2 separate regions of the Homo sapiens genome follow, and region 1 is linked to region 2. The links come from fine-mapping of genetic effects on gene expression. Tissue or cell type: whole blood. Region 2 holds a variant in brackets; the other region holds the start of a gene. All regions are shown on one strand. Distances are from middle to middle.

Region 1 (8,109 bases), 31 kb before region 2:
AAGGAAGTTGAAAGTTGTAGGATTGGCCATAACAATTTGGACCTGTGCGTTTAAACTTATTTTCTGTACTTCTAGGGCCAAAGTGGTATAATTTTCTTCTACAAAGGTTAAGGAGAGGCTTGAACTACCTTTTCTTTTTTTTTTGAACTATCCTTTTTAACTGTATTAATGCCATAGTGGGTGTCAAGGGCCCTCATGGTGCATATGAAAAGAGAATCATTGATATCCCTGGGAGGTTTTCCCCAATTCCCTGTAGTTGCCTCAATTTGGAGGTAATTCCAGAAGGACACACCATTGACAGGTGGGATAGCAGCTTTAAATATTTTGAAGTCCCAGACAATCAGTCCAAATGCCCTTGGGGAAGGCATGAAAAGTGGTATCCTATGGGGAAACAGGTGGGGTCTGAGGTATAGTAATTATTAACAATTACTGGGATTAACAACTGGGTAGATCCCTCAGAAGAGCAGAGTCTTTGTGTGGAACTGAACGCAGTTTGTAAGGCTGGTTGGGAAGTGGTGGAAGAGAAAATGGTTATTATTAGGGATAAAAGTGCTCCTACATTTTTTCCTACACTTGATCCTGAAAAAGTGGAGTCATTGAGTTTGGAGATTTCAAGAGACTCATTAATCATGTTAAGAATTAAGTTTCATTTAGTACATGCTGAGAAATTGGGGATAATAGAAGAGTCAAGGGCCATTAGGCATGAGACTCTGGGCAGGTTGAGTTCCTTAAAGAGTTTGGCTAGTTTGAATATAACGGTACCACTGGCCTGCTTGTTTCATTTTCCAGAGGACTGGTAAGGAGACTGCAGTTTTTGTAACATTGGAAGTACTTGTTGAAGATCCTGAATAACCTTACTACTGAAGTGAGTTCCTCCACTGTTATTAAAAAAAACAGAGATCCCTAGGAGGGGAAAATTCTTTCTGGTATCAGGTTAACTTCAGTGGTGATAGTAGCTTGTTTACAGAGAAAAGCTTTTAACCATGCTGAAAACATGCCAACTATGGTTAAAACATATTTGTACCCATAAGACTTTGAGAGTTGATATATTTTCCAATGAAAACAAGGACTAGAGAGAGTTGACTCTCATGCTTGTCCCACTTTACATGTTGACTAGGATTGTGTTTCTGGCAGATGGGGCAAGTTGAAGTTAACTGCTCAGTATTAGGGCATCCCCAACAATATTTGCGGAGAAAGATTTTCTTTGCCATAATGTGTAATCTCATGGAGGCTGCAGAATAAATTTTGGGTGAGGGACCAAGAGAAATCAATGATGTCTAGGTGTCTCCAAAGCCCATCTGAGTAGAAAAAACATCCAGCTTGTTGCTTTTTTGCTTTTTCAGCCTCAGGTGCTAGCAGCTGTTATATCTTAAGTTTCTTAAGAGTTTCTGTCTTTAGAGTAGGTTGAGCAAGGAGAAGTATACACGTGATTCAGGAGGTGTTTTCTTGGGAAGCAGCAACCTTAGCATATTTTCAGCCAGTTAAGTTTCCTTTAGCTTTGTTAGTCCAGCCACTAGTGTGAGCTTTGATTTTTGAGAATGGCTAATTTCTGGATAGCTGTAAGGACTTAAACAGGGGGGCTGGGCGCGGTGGCTCACGCTTGTAATCCCAGCACTTTGGGAGGCCGAGGCGGGTGGATTACCTGAGGTCAGGATTTTGAGACCAGCCTGGCCAACGTGGCGAAACCCCATCTCAACTAAAAGTAAAAAAAAAAAAAAAAAAATTAGCCGGTCATGGTGGTGGGTGTCTGTAATCCTAGCTACTCAGGAGGCTGAGGCAGGAGAATCGCTTGAACCCGGGAGGCGGAGGTTGCAGTGAGCCAAGACCGCGCCACTGCAACTCCAGCCTGGGTGACAAGAGCGAGACTCCATCTCAAAAAAAAAAAAAAAAGACTTAAATAAGTTAGTGAGTTGGGTTCTGAGTGGTACTCCTCAGTTGTCATAAACCTCTTTCTTTCCATAGCATACCAAAATAACGTGCAATTCCAAAAGTAAACTGGCTGTCTCTATAAATGTTAGTTCCCTTATCTTGTGCTAACATGCAAGTTTGGGTGAGTGCTTAAGAATTCAATGATTTGGGCCATGTTAACTTAAGTGGAGATTTCAACTTAATAGGCTGTTGAAAATCTGCAATAGTGTATCCTGCTTAAAATTCCCCATTTGTACTCCTGAGGTAAGAACCATCTACAAAGGTGATATCAAGGTCTCTGAGAGGAGTTCTGGTGATGTCAGAGTGAGGAAATGTGAATGACTGTGTGACGGTGATTCAGTCACAAGGTTGTCCTTCAGAGGGAATGGGAAGAAGAGTGGCTTGATTGTTTTGACTACGGTGGACAGTGATGAGAGAGGAAGACAGTGGCAGGGTTTCACAGGAGGTGAGTCCGAAGCGGAAACGTGTTAGGTGTTCTCAGTGACTTCTAATGTCTGAACTGCACGGGGTAAGTAAAGGTTGAGTGAATGACTAGAAATAAAGTCAGCTCTGATGGAGAGGCAACTTCATACAAGCAAGGGGAGAAATGCTTGAGCCACTGGGTCTAAAAGGATGCTAAATTACCAACCAGGCCTCTGGCTTCCATTGTGTTTTGGGGTGAGGACCCCCTAAAGCATGTCTCTTCTTTTGTGTAAAAAAGGGAAAGGGGTACTGAATATTGGAGAGACCAAGTGGGAGAAGTGGCTACAGAGGACTTCAGGTTTTGAAATGCAGATATGGAAGGAAAGTCTCAAAGTCAGGTGACTGGAGGTGGTCTCCTTTTAGTCATGGCAAATAAGGACAGGCAATTGTGAAAAAGCCAGGGATCTAATTCCAGCGATAGCCAACCAATCCTACAAACCCTGAGTTATCTTTTGGTACCAGGGAGAGGCATAGTGAGTAAAAAAAAAAAAAAAAAAAAAATCACTTCTAATGGATACATACACTAATACAAGATGTTAATAATAAGGGAACTGTGAAGTGGGGAGAGATATATGGAAGTTCCCTGTCCCTGCTGCTCAATTTTTCCGTAAACCTAAAAATAAAATCTAATTTACACACACACACACACACGCCCCTAAAAAGGGATCTCTGCTGGAACTTGCAAGGTTTTCTGTTTTGGGGGGTTTTTTGTTTTCCTACAGGCTCATAATTTCAAATTAGTGGTGCTTCCTTTTTTTTTTTTTAATAAAGGCTGGAAGAAAACTTATCGAACCTTTATAATTCTAAGAACTGAGTAATTATTCTACAAACCAACAAATATTTATTAACAGCGTCCTATAACCAACTCATGTAATCTTCACACAATCCTATGAAATACTACTGTTCACGTCTTACAAAAGAAGAAACAGTTCAAAGAGACAAGTCAAACAATACATACTAGAACGAGGCGACTACTCTGGATTCCAAAACCACAGTTCCAAACCACAAAATCGAATCTAGGAAAATTGGCGCTCTCGAGTGTCGTCAGCTAAAACAAGGAACACCAGAGAAGGATCGCGATATTACACAAACTACTACTCCCGACATGCAAAGCGGATTCTTTCCCTCGGTCTCGGCCCGGGAGTCCGAGAGTCCCAGCAGCCCTCGGGGCGCGAAAGGCAACCTGGGAGCGGTAGTTCTCCTGGGCGCCTAGCATTGTCGCCCACGCTGCAGTAGCGGCTTCTGCGGCTCCAAGCCAGCGGGTCCTGTGAAGGCGAGCAGACGCGGAGAAAGGACGCGGGAGTGAGAGAGGGTGAGTCAGCCACTGTCTAAACGATAACGGGAGGCGGTTCTGCGGGGTAGGGTTGAATTCAGTAAATGGGCTCGTGCTGCTGTCTCTTCGGAGACGCTGCTATCTTAGCGTCAGCGAGGGAAGGTTGAGGAGGAGCCAGAGCCGGGTCCTGCAGCGTTTCTCGCCATCAGCGCCCGTCGCCATCTCCACCATGCAGTCCCGGGAAGACGCCCCGCGCTCTCGCCGCCTAGCCAGTCCCCGTGGTGGGAAGCGGCCCAAGAAGATTCACAAACCCACAGTTTCGGCCTTTTTCACGGGTCCAGAGGAATTAAAGGACACGGCCCATTCTGCAGCCCTGCTGGCACAGCTCAAGTCCTTCTACGATGCGCGGCTGCTGTGTGATGTGACCATCGAGGTGGTGACGCCTGGCAGCGGGCCTGGCACGGGTCGCCTGTTCCCCTGCAACCGCAATGTGCTGGCCGCGGCATGTCCCTACTTCAAGAGCATGTTCACAGGTGGCATGTACGAGAGCCAGCAGGCCAGCGTGACCATGCACGATGTGGACGCCGAGTCCTTCGAGGTGTTGGTCGACTACTGCTACACGGGTCGTGTGTCTCTCAGTGAGGCCAACGTGGAGCGCCTGTACGCGGCCTCCGACATGCTACAGCTGGAATATGTGCGGGAAGCCTGTGCCTCCTTCTTAGCCCGACGTCTTGACCTGACCAACTGCACCGCCATCCTCAAGTTTGCAGATGCCTTTGGCCATCGCAAGCTGCGATCCCAGGCCCAGTCCTATATAGCTCAGAACTTCAAGCAACTCAGCCACATGGGTTCAATTCGGGAGGAGACTCTAGCAGATCTGACCCTGGCCCAGCTGCTGGCTGTCCTGCGCTTGGATAGTCTGGACGTGGAGAGTGAGCAGACAGTGTGCCATGTGGCAGTGCAGTGGCTGGAGGCTGCTCCCAAAGAGCGGGGTCCCAGTGCTGCAGAAGTCTTCAAGTGCGTGCGCTGGATGCACTTCACTGAAGAAGATCAGGACTACTTAGAAGGGCTGCTGACCAAGCCCATCGTGAAGAAGTACTGCCTGGACGTTATTGAAGGGGCCCTGCAGATGCGCTATGGTGACCTGTTGTACAAGTCTCTGGTGCCAGTGCCAAACAGCAGCAGCAGCAGTAGCAGCAGCAACTCTCTTGTATCTGCAGCAGAAAATCCACCCCAGAGACTGGGTATGTGTGCCAAGGAGATGGTGATCTTCTTTGGACACCCCAGAGATCCCTTTCTCTGCTGTGATCCATACTCGGGGGACCTTTACAAAGTGCCGTCACCTTTGACCTGTCTGGCTCACACTAGGACTGTCACCACTTTAGCTGTCTGTATCTCTCCTGACCATGACATCTATCTAGCTGCTCAGCCCAGGACAGACCTCTGGGTGTATAAACCAGCTCAGAATAGTTGGCAGCAACTTGCAGATCGCTTGCTGTGTCGTGAGGGCATGGATGTGGCATATCTCAATGGCTATATCTACATTTTGGGGGGGCGAGACCCTATTACTGGAGTTAAGTTGAAGGAAGTGGAATGCTACAATGTTAAGAGAAACCAGTGGGCATTGGTGGCTCCACTGCCCCATTCTTTTTTATCCTTTGACCTAATGGTAATTCGAGACTATCTCTATGCTCTCAACAGTAAGCGCATGTTCTGTTATGATCCTAGCCACAATATGTGGCTGAAGTGCGTTTCTCTGAAGCGCAATGACTTTCAGGAAGCCTGCGTCTTCAATGAGGAGATCTATTGTATCTGTGATATCCCAGTCATGAAGGTCTACAACCCAGTTAGGGCAGAATGGAGGCAAATGAATAATATTCCCTTGGTCTCAGAGACCAACAACTACAGAATTATCAAGCATGGCCAAAAATTGTTGCTCATCACCTCTCGCACCCCACAGTGGAAAAAGAACCGGGTGACTGTGTATGAATATGATATTAGGGGAGACCAATGGATTAATATAGGTACCACATTAGGCCTCTTGCAGTTTGATTCTAACTTTTTTTGCCTCTCTGCTCGTGTTTATCCTTCCTGCCTTGAACCTGGTCAGAGTTTCCTCACTGAAGAAGAAGAAATACCAAGTGAGTCTAGCACTGAATGGGACTTAGGTGGATTCAGTGAGCCAGACTCTGAGTCAGGAAGTTCAAGTTCTCTTTCTGATGATGATTTTTGGGTGCGTGTAGCGCCTCAGTGAAATGCACAGGATCAACAGGGTTTGTTGTAACTAGATTGAAACACTAAGTTGTTTTTACTGTTTTGGAAAATATCTTAAATATCCTTTTTGTTCCTAAAGGAGAGGAAAAGTTGATTAACTTCTGGTTTGGTTTAGAAAAAGTAATGTTTGAAATACGAAGGTAATTTAATGTTACAAATTTTAACACTCAAATCAACCTTTTAATAATTTTCTGTGCTAAGGGTCCAGTATTTATTTGATTATTTAGTATGTTTATGTTTCATGACACTAATTTAGTCTTTTGATACATTTTACATTCTGTTTACTGCCACAAGCACTGTGGCAATAACTTTTGAATTTTAATTTTTATAATAGAAAAATGATTAGGAATTGCTAGATAGTGTTTTGAAAGCATATCTTTTTCTTCAGAACAATGTAGACTTCCAAAATGGTTAACCTAAGGGGTCTTTACAAAATGTGTTATAAGTTAAACATAATTTGGGAAGTTTTACTTTTGTTTTCTTCTATGAAGAAAAAAATGCAGGCTGGGCGCGGTGGCTCACGCCTGTAATCCTAGCACTTTGGGAGGCCGAGGCAGGTGGATCACCTGAGGTCAGTTCAAGACCAGCCTGGCCAACATGGTGAAACCCCGTCTCTACTAAAAATACAAAAATTAGCTGGGCGTGGTGGCATGCGCCTGTAATCCCAGCTACCCAGGAGGCTGAGGCAGGAGAATTGCTGAAACCCGGGAGTCAGAGGCTGCAGAGAGCCGAGACTGGGCCACTGCACTCCAGCCTGGATGACAGAGTGAGACTCCGTCTCAAAAAAAAAAAAAAAAAAAAAAGGAAAAAAAAAAAAGAAAAAAAACCATATGTGTATTAGGGTGACTGAGTGGTGACTTCATTTATAATAATACAGAGAATAGCTATAAGCTCATTGACAGTAAAAACAACAAACCAGGATTCTACTGTTTGAAAAGAAGTTTCGTTTTAATTTTGGAATTTAGAATGTGTATTTGCAAAGTCACCAATTTTCATCTAAAAGGTTATATTCTAGTTGTGTCACCAAATCATCAAAAAACCTTAAAAAAGAAGTAACTTGCTTTGTAGGTTTGTATTGTTGATCTAAACCTGATACATGCTTCATTTAATCAGGAATAATCCTTTTTTTTCTGCTGGACATGTATAAATTTCACTGGATTGTATAAATTTTTATCTATTGCCTTAAACATTTACATGATTCTCAATATGTTTTAGCTGTACAGTTTTGGTGTTCATCTTAGAGGATTCTTCAGCAGAAGTGATATTTCTTTACTGTTTTGTGAGGTAATACTGATTTTGAAAATATATATAAGCTAAAAACAGTATTTCGTTGATATCAGTAGTCATTGTGTTAACTATAAAGTCAAGTGCCAGCAAAGAACTTTAAAACTGTAAAGCTGTGTATAGAACTGTTTTGTGTAGCATGGAAATATTCTGTCAGCTTTTTAAAGTCACTAAATGTTCTTGATTATCAGCTTGAAGGTATTTTTGTATTACAAGTTGACAGTTGCTGGGTGTAGTGGCTCATGCCTGTAATCCTAGCAACTCGGGGCTGAGGTGGGAGGATTGCTTCAGCCCAGGAGTTTGAGACCAGCCTGGGCAACATAGCAAAACCCCATCTCTACAAAAATAAAAAATATGTCTGGGCATGGTGGCCCAAGTCTGAGTCCCAGTTACTTGGGAGGATCACTTGAATGTAGGATCACTTGAGTCTAGGAGTTCGGGGCTGCAGCTATCATCTGCAGCTATAATCATAGCTCACTGCAGCTATGATCATGTCTCAGCACTCCAGCTTTGGCAACAGAACGAGATCCCATCTCTTAGAAAAACAAAGTTGATAGTTAAAGAACATAAGTGGATGATGGCATTTGAGGCCACTAGTGAAAGTATGTTTTCTCTAAAATATTTCTCTAATAGTGATATAAATGGCTATTTTATTATGATGTTTGTATGTGTTTTGTATTTCTCTGTAAACCATGCTCCAGTCTTTGTTTTTCTGTTACCATAATGTAAGAGAAGGTCCTGGAACAGAGACTAAATCCCACGAAACTGACATTGTTAAACACACTAAAACAGAAGTACTTACCTCTTGAAGATTTAATATATAATGGTTGACATGATACATGTACATGATGAATGACCAGATGCTTATGGTCTACATTTTCCTTTAT
Region 2 (8,109 bases):
TCCTGGCAGAGAGGCTGTGGAAATGAGTTGTGAACACGTGTGGTCTTTTCCAGGATTTTGAATCTCAACAAGTGACACAAAGAAGCAAGGTATTTAGAATTCATTCTGGTGGTGGCAGCAGTAGTAACATCCATGTTCTGGAGCTGCATTAGAAGTGTATTAACAAATTAACAATAATTTTTTTTTTTTTTTTTTTTTGGAGACAGAGTCTCACTCTGTTGCCCAGGCTATAGTGCAGTGGCACAATCTCAGCTCACTACAACCTACACCTCCCAGGTTCAAGCGATTCTCCTGCCTCAGCGCCCCTAGTAGCTGAGATTACAGGCATGTGCCACCACACCCAACTAGATTTTGTATTTTTAGTATAGATGGGGTTTCACCATGTTGGCCAGGCTGGTCTCGAACCACTGACCTCAAGTGATCATCCACACACCTTGGCCTCCCAAAGTGCTGGGATTATAGGCGTGAACCACCATGCCTGGCCAATTAACAAGAATCTTTAATGTGACTTTTTACTGATGTTTCAAATTGGTATTAAAGTTGGTTCAAAATCCAAAGCATATAAAGAATATACAGTAAAAGGTCTCTCCTGTCCATCTTATCCCTGTTTTTCCTTTTTTTTTTTAGACGGAGTCTCACTCTGTTGTCCAGGCTGGAGTACAGTGGCGTGATCTCAGCTCACTGCAACCTCTACCTCCCTGGTTCAAGCGACTCTTCTGCCTCAGCCTCCTGAGTAGCTGGGACTACAGGCACACACCATCACACCCAGCTACTTTTTCTATTTTTAGTAGAGATGGGGTTTCTGGCCAGGCTGGTCTCAAACTCCTGACCTCGTGATCCACCTGCCTCGGCCTCCCAAAGTGCTGGGATTACAGGTGTGAGCCACCGTGCCTGGTCCCCCGTTTCTTAAACACCTTATGATAGTTAATATTACGCATCAGCTTAATTGAATTAAGGAATACCTAGAGTACTGGTAAAGCATTATTTCTGGGTGTTTCCAGAGGAGATTGGCAGCTAAATCTGATTGAATTGGAAGATCTCCCCTCAATGTGGGCAGACACAGTCCAATTAGCCAGATGGGAAAAAAAGGCAGAAGAAGGGCAATTTCCGCTCTCTGCTAAAGCTGAGATGCTCTGCTCTGGTCCTTGGACATCAGAACTCCAGGCTCTTTGGACTCCAGGACTGATGCAGGCAGTCCCCTGCCTTCTCAGGCTGAGAGTTGAGTTACACCATCAGTTCCCCTGGTTTGAGACATTTAGACTTGGACTGAGCCACATGACCAGGATCCCAGACTTTCCAGCTGCAGTGGGACTTCACAGCCTCCATAATCTCATGAGCCAGTTCCCCTAATAAGGGGAGTTCCCTAATAAGCCAGTTCCACTCATCTATCTATCTATCTATCTATCTATCTATCTATCTATCTATCCATCCATCAATCATCTGTGTGTCTATCTACCTATCCATCTATCCAGCCATCTTATTGGTTCTGTCTCTCTGGAAGTCCTTGATGAATATACTCCTAGTTTTCTTTTCCAGTGTTATCAATTTTGTGTGTATCCTTTCAGGCTTATTTTATGCATATATATGACAGTACACATATCTTTTCTGCCCATGTTTTGTTTTACTAAAATTGCAGCATACTATATGTCAACAGAAAAAACCACTGGGTGCAGTGGCTCACACCTGTAATCCCAGCACTTTGGGAGGCCGAGATGGTCGAATTGCTTGAGCTCATGAGTTCAAGACCAGCCTGGGCAACATGGAGAAACCCCATCTCTACAAAAAAATACTAAAATTAGCCTGGCATGGTGGCACGTGCCTGTAGTCCCAGCTACTTGGGAGGCTGAGGTGGGAGGATGGCCTGCACCTAGGAGGCAGAGGTTGCAGTGAGCCAAGATGGCACCACTGCACTCCAGCCTGGGGTATAAAGCCAGACCTAAAATCAAACAAACAAACTGTAAAATATTGTATTTTATTTTTGGGAGTCAGAATCTCACTGTCACCCAGGCTGGAGTACAGTGGCATGATCATGGCTCACTGCAGCCTCAGACTGTCAGACTCCTGGGCTCACATGACCCTCCCACCTCAGCCTCCTGTAGCTGGGACTACTGACACACACCACCACACCAGCCTAATTTTTAATTTTTTTTTTTTTTTTTTTTTTTTAGACAGAGTGTCACTCTGTCACCCAGGCTGGAGTACAGTGGTGTGATCTTGGCTCACTGCAACCTCTGCCTCCTGGGTTCAAGCGATTCTTCTGCCTCGGCCTCCCGAGTAGCTGGGACTACAGGCATGTGCCACCACACCCAGCTTATTTTTATATTTTTAGTAGAGACGGGGTTTCACCATATTGGCCAGGCTGGTCTTGAACTCTGACCTTGTGATCTGCCCACTTCAGCCTCCCAAAGTGCTGGGATTACAGGCATGAGCCACCGTGCCTGGCTTATGTGTGTGTGTGTGTGTATATATATATAATGTGTATATATATATTATATATATATTTATATATATATATATAAAATATATATATAATGTGTATATATATATTTTATATATATATATAAATATATATATAATATATATATACACATTATATATATATACACACACACACTAAAATATATATATATATATATTTTTTTTAAGAGATGGAGTCTCACTATGTTGCCTAGGCTGGTCTCAAATTCCTGGGCTCAAGCAATTCCCCCACCTTGGCCTCCCAAAGTGCTGGGATCATAGGCTTGATCCACCATGCCTGGCCCTGTGAAGTATTTTAAGGTTTATTCTGAGCCAGTATGAGTGATGGAGGCCCAGGGAAAACACAAACCCAAGAAGCCTTGAGTAAGTGGTCCTGAGGCAGTCAGAATGTAACTTTGTCTATGGCGGTGAGTGGTGGCTCAAGCCTATACTCCCAGCGCTATGGGAGGCCTAGGGAGGCGGATCACTTGAGATCAGGAGTTCAAGAATGTAACTTTGTTTTATACATTTTAGGGAAGCAAAAGTTACAGCCAAAACCGTAAATCAATACATGGAGGTTATACACTAGTTTAGCCCGAAAACATGAGATATCTTGAAGCAGGGGCTTACAGGTCACAGTGGGTTCAGAGATTTTTTAAATTTGCAGTGGGTTAAAGGAACAAAGCTTTGTCTAAAAACTTGGAGTTAGCAGAAAGGAATGTTGAAATTGGGATAAGGATGCTGTGTCAGAGTCCGGTTGTGAGAGCAAGCTTCAATATACTGGGTCAAAATGACCTACTTATCAAGACAGATGGCCTGCAGGTGTGACCTAACCCTTGCCTTGCATGGCTTTAGGTCCTGTTTATAATTTGGTATTTTATTGCCACAGAGTTTGTTCTGTCAGTCTTTTGATTTCTATTGTAACATTATTGCTAGTCAGTTGTGCCTAAATTCCAAAAGGGAGGGGATGTCTTGAGGCCTTTCTGACCTCCTTTCCTGTCATGGCCAGGAACTAATTTTTAAGATTTCTCTGGTGTCTTCTTGGCTAAGAGGGGGTCCATTTAGTCATTTGAGGGCTTATAGTTTTGTTTTTCATTTACATGTGTGTATTTTTGTACGTATGTAAAATACATATATATTTTACGTATATAAACTGCTTCTAATGCTATGTAGCATGTCCCATATGAGTACATCAAGGACCTGCTCACTCTTTTTTTTTTATCTTCAGAGTAGACATTGTAAAAATGTATCATAATCCACTAAGTTTCCATTGGTGGACATTTAAGTGACTTATAATCTTTTGCCATTACAAACAGTGCTGTTGTGAATACTCTTCTACTTACATTATTTCACTTCTATGCCAAAATATTTTTAGAAGCAATTTCTCAAAAGGTGTGTACATTTGGCATTTGGAATTTTGACAAGGTATTACAGAAGTGCCTTCTGGAGAAGTTATGCCCATTTATGCTACACCAGCAATATATAATGGTGCCATTTCACCCATCCCTCCTAGAAATGTGTTATCAGACTTATTGATATTTGCACTGACTTGAGTTTTGCTTTAGTTCTGGCTGCCAGAGAAATATTTGTTCTTTCACATTTTCTGAACTGGTTGTTTGCCCTTCCAATCAATTTTGCATGTGGCGTCCTTTCAACAAATTCTTTTTTTTTTTTTTTTAGAAATAGGGTCTCTCACAGAGAAACACACATACGAACTAATGTGTAAATGTTTTTGTTCCTCCTCATTGATGACAAAATGATGGAATAATGCTTAAAGATCATGAGTTCTACAGTCAGACAGCCTGAGTTGGAGGCTCATCTTCACTTCTTGCTGTGTGACCCTGGGCCAGTGACTTAACTTCTCTATGCCATTTTCTTATCTGCAAAAGGAGGGTAATACTAGTATCTGTCTCATAGGGTTGTAGTAAATTGATTATTAATTGCTATATGAATATTCATGGAAAACTTATAAATAGTTCATATTTCTTTTAGCAGACAGTTTTGACATGGACATATGTTTTTGACATGGACATATGTTCTCATGATTCTCATATTGTGTACATAT[A/T]ATGTAGTCTTGTGAATTAAGCAGATGTTTCTCAAGGGACACCATAACACTTAGAGGCTCTGTCATTTGAATAAATTTGAGCCCACCAATGTAAAACATGCAGAAAATCTTGAGTCGTATGTTCAGTCTCTGTTCTGTATCTTGCCACGTTTTGACCTCATGCAAGTTGCCTAATATTTCAATCTCAAATTTTTAATCTGTAAAATGAGTTACTTATATTTATGTAACTTCTAGAATTTTTCAGTGCTCAAATAAAATATTACAAAATATGAAGCCAAAAAAAGAGGGAAAGAAACAGGGTCTCATTCTGTCTCTGAGGCTGAAGTGCAGTGGCACGATCATAGCTCACTGCAGTCTCCAACACCTGGGGTCAAGCAATCCTCCTGCCTCAGCCTTCCAGTAGCCAGGACCACAAGCACACACTGCCACATCTAGCTAATTTTTTTTTTGTAGTGACAAGGTATCAATATTTTGCCCAGGGTGGCATCAAACTCCTGGCCTCAAGCAGTCCTCTTATTAGGGAAGCAGGAGCCTAGGAGAGCCAGTGACACCATTGAAAAATCAACCCCATCTTAAAACTAGCAAGGCACATTCCTTGCCAGTGACAACCCATGGTCCTGATATGTTTACAATTAAGAAAGCAGCTTGATAATGCCTGTAAGGACAAACTCCTACAACAACAGAAAGTCCAGATGTCCTGATCCCCATAACAATGTATCCTTTCACATAATTATAGTTATGCTTTAATGTACTTACACACCAAAAGGTCAAGCATAGTTTTCATTAAATCAGTAAAATAATAAATTTTGTCATGCTGTCTGCCCGTCTGCACATAGATACAACTGAGCTTAGTCTTTACATTGACAAGAACCCTATATAAGAAAAACGTGGCTGGATGGCCAGGCGTGGTGGCTCATGATTGTAATCCCAGCACTTTGGGAGGCCAAGGAGGGTGGATCACTAGATGTCAGGGGTTCCAGGCCACCCTGGCCAACATGGTGAAACCCCTTCTCTACTAAAAAAATACAAAAAAGGCTGGGCACGGTGGTTCACGCCTATAATCCCAGCACTTTGGGAGGCCAAGGTGGGCAGATCACGAGGTCAGGAGATCGAGACCATCCTGGCTAACACGGTGAAACCCCGTCTCTACTAAAAATATAAAAAAAAAAATTAGCCGGGTGTAGTGGCAGGCGCCTGTAGTCCCAGCTACTCGGGAGGCTGAGACAGGAGAATGGCGTGAACCTGAGAGACGGAGCTGGTAGTGTGCCGAGATCGCGCCACTGCACTCCAGCCTGGGCGACAGAGCAAGACTCCGTCTCAAAAACAACAAAAAATATATATATATACATATATATATATGTATATATATGCATGTGTTTGTATATATATATTTGTGTATATATATATATATATACACAAAAAAATTAGCTGGGCGTTGTGGTGCACTCTTATAGTCCCAGCTCCTCGTGAGGCAGAGGCAAGAGAATTGCTTGAGCTTGGGAGGCGGAGTTTGCAGTGAGCCAAGATCATGCCACTGCACTCCAGCCTGGGCGTCAGGGCAGGACTCTGTGTGAAAACAAAACAAAACAAAACTTGTGACTCTGTGTAAAAAAAAAAGCAAAAAACAAAAAAAAAACAAAAACTTGTGATTCCAGCACTTTGGTAGGCCTCCACCCACCTAACAATTGTTTGGGACACCCAACAGTTCTGGATTAACTTCATTTATCCAAATTGCACTAATTCCATTAGCATATTATGGCAACAGCATTCCTGGAGACATCAGAATTGGCCACCCAAAAGACTAGAATGCAACCTCATTGGAAAAATTGAAGCTGCGCTAGGTATACTGGGGCAAGGTGAGTTTATAGCTAATGTAATGTAGGAATGTAGAGAGGCATTCCTTAGAGAAAAATTCCATGTAAAAAATAGGCCACATAAAAGGAATGCTATTCCAAGACAAGGGAAAAGGATGGGAAGTTGCCTTAAAAGATAATCTAGTACTCATCAAATGGATAGAAGAAACCAGACCAAACATGAAAACTTACTCCTAAATGCAAAGGTGGGAACAATCATGTACTCTAACCCAAAAGGGCTCATGTCTATGTTTTTACAAGTGGAATCTTAGGTAGCTATGAATCAGTGACCTGCAATCCTCAGTGCTAAGGCACAATCCAAACACCTATAGAGAGTATGTGGTCCCTCAAATGTATGGAAATTTTTGGATGGTAAATGTGACCTCAAATACTACATTCTCAAAGCACAGGCACCAAAGTTGAATGAGGCTCAAAAGTATTCTGTTGTCTAAGTGGCAGGCATTGGGACTGTTGTAAACAATACAAGACTACTCCTCATGGGAAACAGGTGGACTATTTTAGCTAACGATAATGTTACTGGTTGGTATCTGAGTTATCAGCAGTAAATCCCTATGCGGCTACAGCAACCTCAATCTTACCTCCTCAGAAGAAAGCATTCAACTGAGAGGCATAAGGCAGAAAAAGAGACAGGCAAGTTTCAGAGCAGGAGTGGAAGTTTATTTTAAAAGGCTTTAGAAGGTGAAAGCATTCCCTTTGAAAACCAGCACAAGACAAGGATGCCCTCTCTTACCACTCCTATTCAACATAGTATTAGAAGTCATGGCCAGGGCAATCATGCAAGAGGAATAAATAAAGGGTATTCAAATAGGAAGAGAGGAAGTCAAATTATCTTTGTTTGCAGATGACATGATCTTATATCTAGAAAGCCCCATAGTCTCAGCCCAAAAGCTTCTTAAGCTGCTAAACAACTTCAACAAAGTCTCAGGATATAAAATTAATGTACAAAAATCACTAGCATTCCTACACGCCAACAACAGGCAAGCAGAGAGCCAAATCATGAATGAACTCCCATTCGCAATTGCTACAAAAAGAATAAAATACCTAGGAATACAGCTAACAAGGAAGTGAAGAACCTCTTTGAGGAGAACTACAAACCACTGCTCAGATAAATCAGAGGGAATAAAAACAAATGGAGAAAAATTCCATGCTCATGGATAGGAAGAATCAATATGAAAATGGCCATAAGCTCCAAGTAATTTATAGATTCAATGCTATTCCCATTAAACTACCATTGACATTCTTCACAGAATTAGAAAAAACTATTTTAAAATTCATATGGAACCAAAAAAAAAAAAGCCTGAATAACCAAGCCAATCCTAAGCAAAAAGAACAAAGCTGGAGCATTATGCTACCTGATTTCAAACTATGCTACAAGGCTACAGTAACCAAAGCAGCATGGTACTGGTACAAGAACAGACAGGTCAATGGAACAGAATAGAGAACCCAGAAATAAGACCACACACCTACAGCAATCTGATCTTCAACAATCCTGACCAAAACAAGCAATGGGAAAGGATTCCCTATTTAATAAATGGTACTGGGAGAACTGGCTAGCCATATGCAGAAAATTGAAACTGGAACCCTTCCTTACACCATATACAAAAATTAACTCACGACAGATTAAAGACTTAAATGTAAAACCCAAAACTATAAAAACCCTAGAAAAAAATCTAGGCAACATCATTCAGGATATAGGCATGGGAAAAGATTTCA

Evidence for each region. PIP is the estimated chance that this variant, and not a neighbour inherited with it, causes the effect.
Region 1: KBTBD6-DT starts here. The variant in region 2 is fine-mapped to the expression of KBTBD6-DT in whole blood (TOPMed, PIP above 0.99).

What each region holds. Positions count from the first base shown.
Region 1 is chr13:41,128,296-41,136,404 of GRCh38, reverse strand. KBTBD6-DT (KBTBD6 divergent transcript) reads right to left here and starts at 3,477. Exons shown (of 4, transcript NR_120423.1): 1 at 3,350-3,477. KBTBD6 (kelch repeat and BTB domain containing 6) reads left to right here and starts at 3,603. Exons shown (of 1, transcript NM_152903.5): 1 at 3,603-8,109. The coding sequence starts at 3,894. The coding sequence ends at 5,918. RefSeq lists enhancers at 3,301-3,540, 3,901-3,950.
Region 2 is chr13:41,097,223-41,105,331 of GRCh38, reverse strand. It overlaps MIR3168 (microRNA 3168), which reads left to right and starts at 4,232; the gene lies at 4,232-4,313. The variant A/T (reference allele first, on the strand shown) is at 4,523.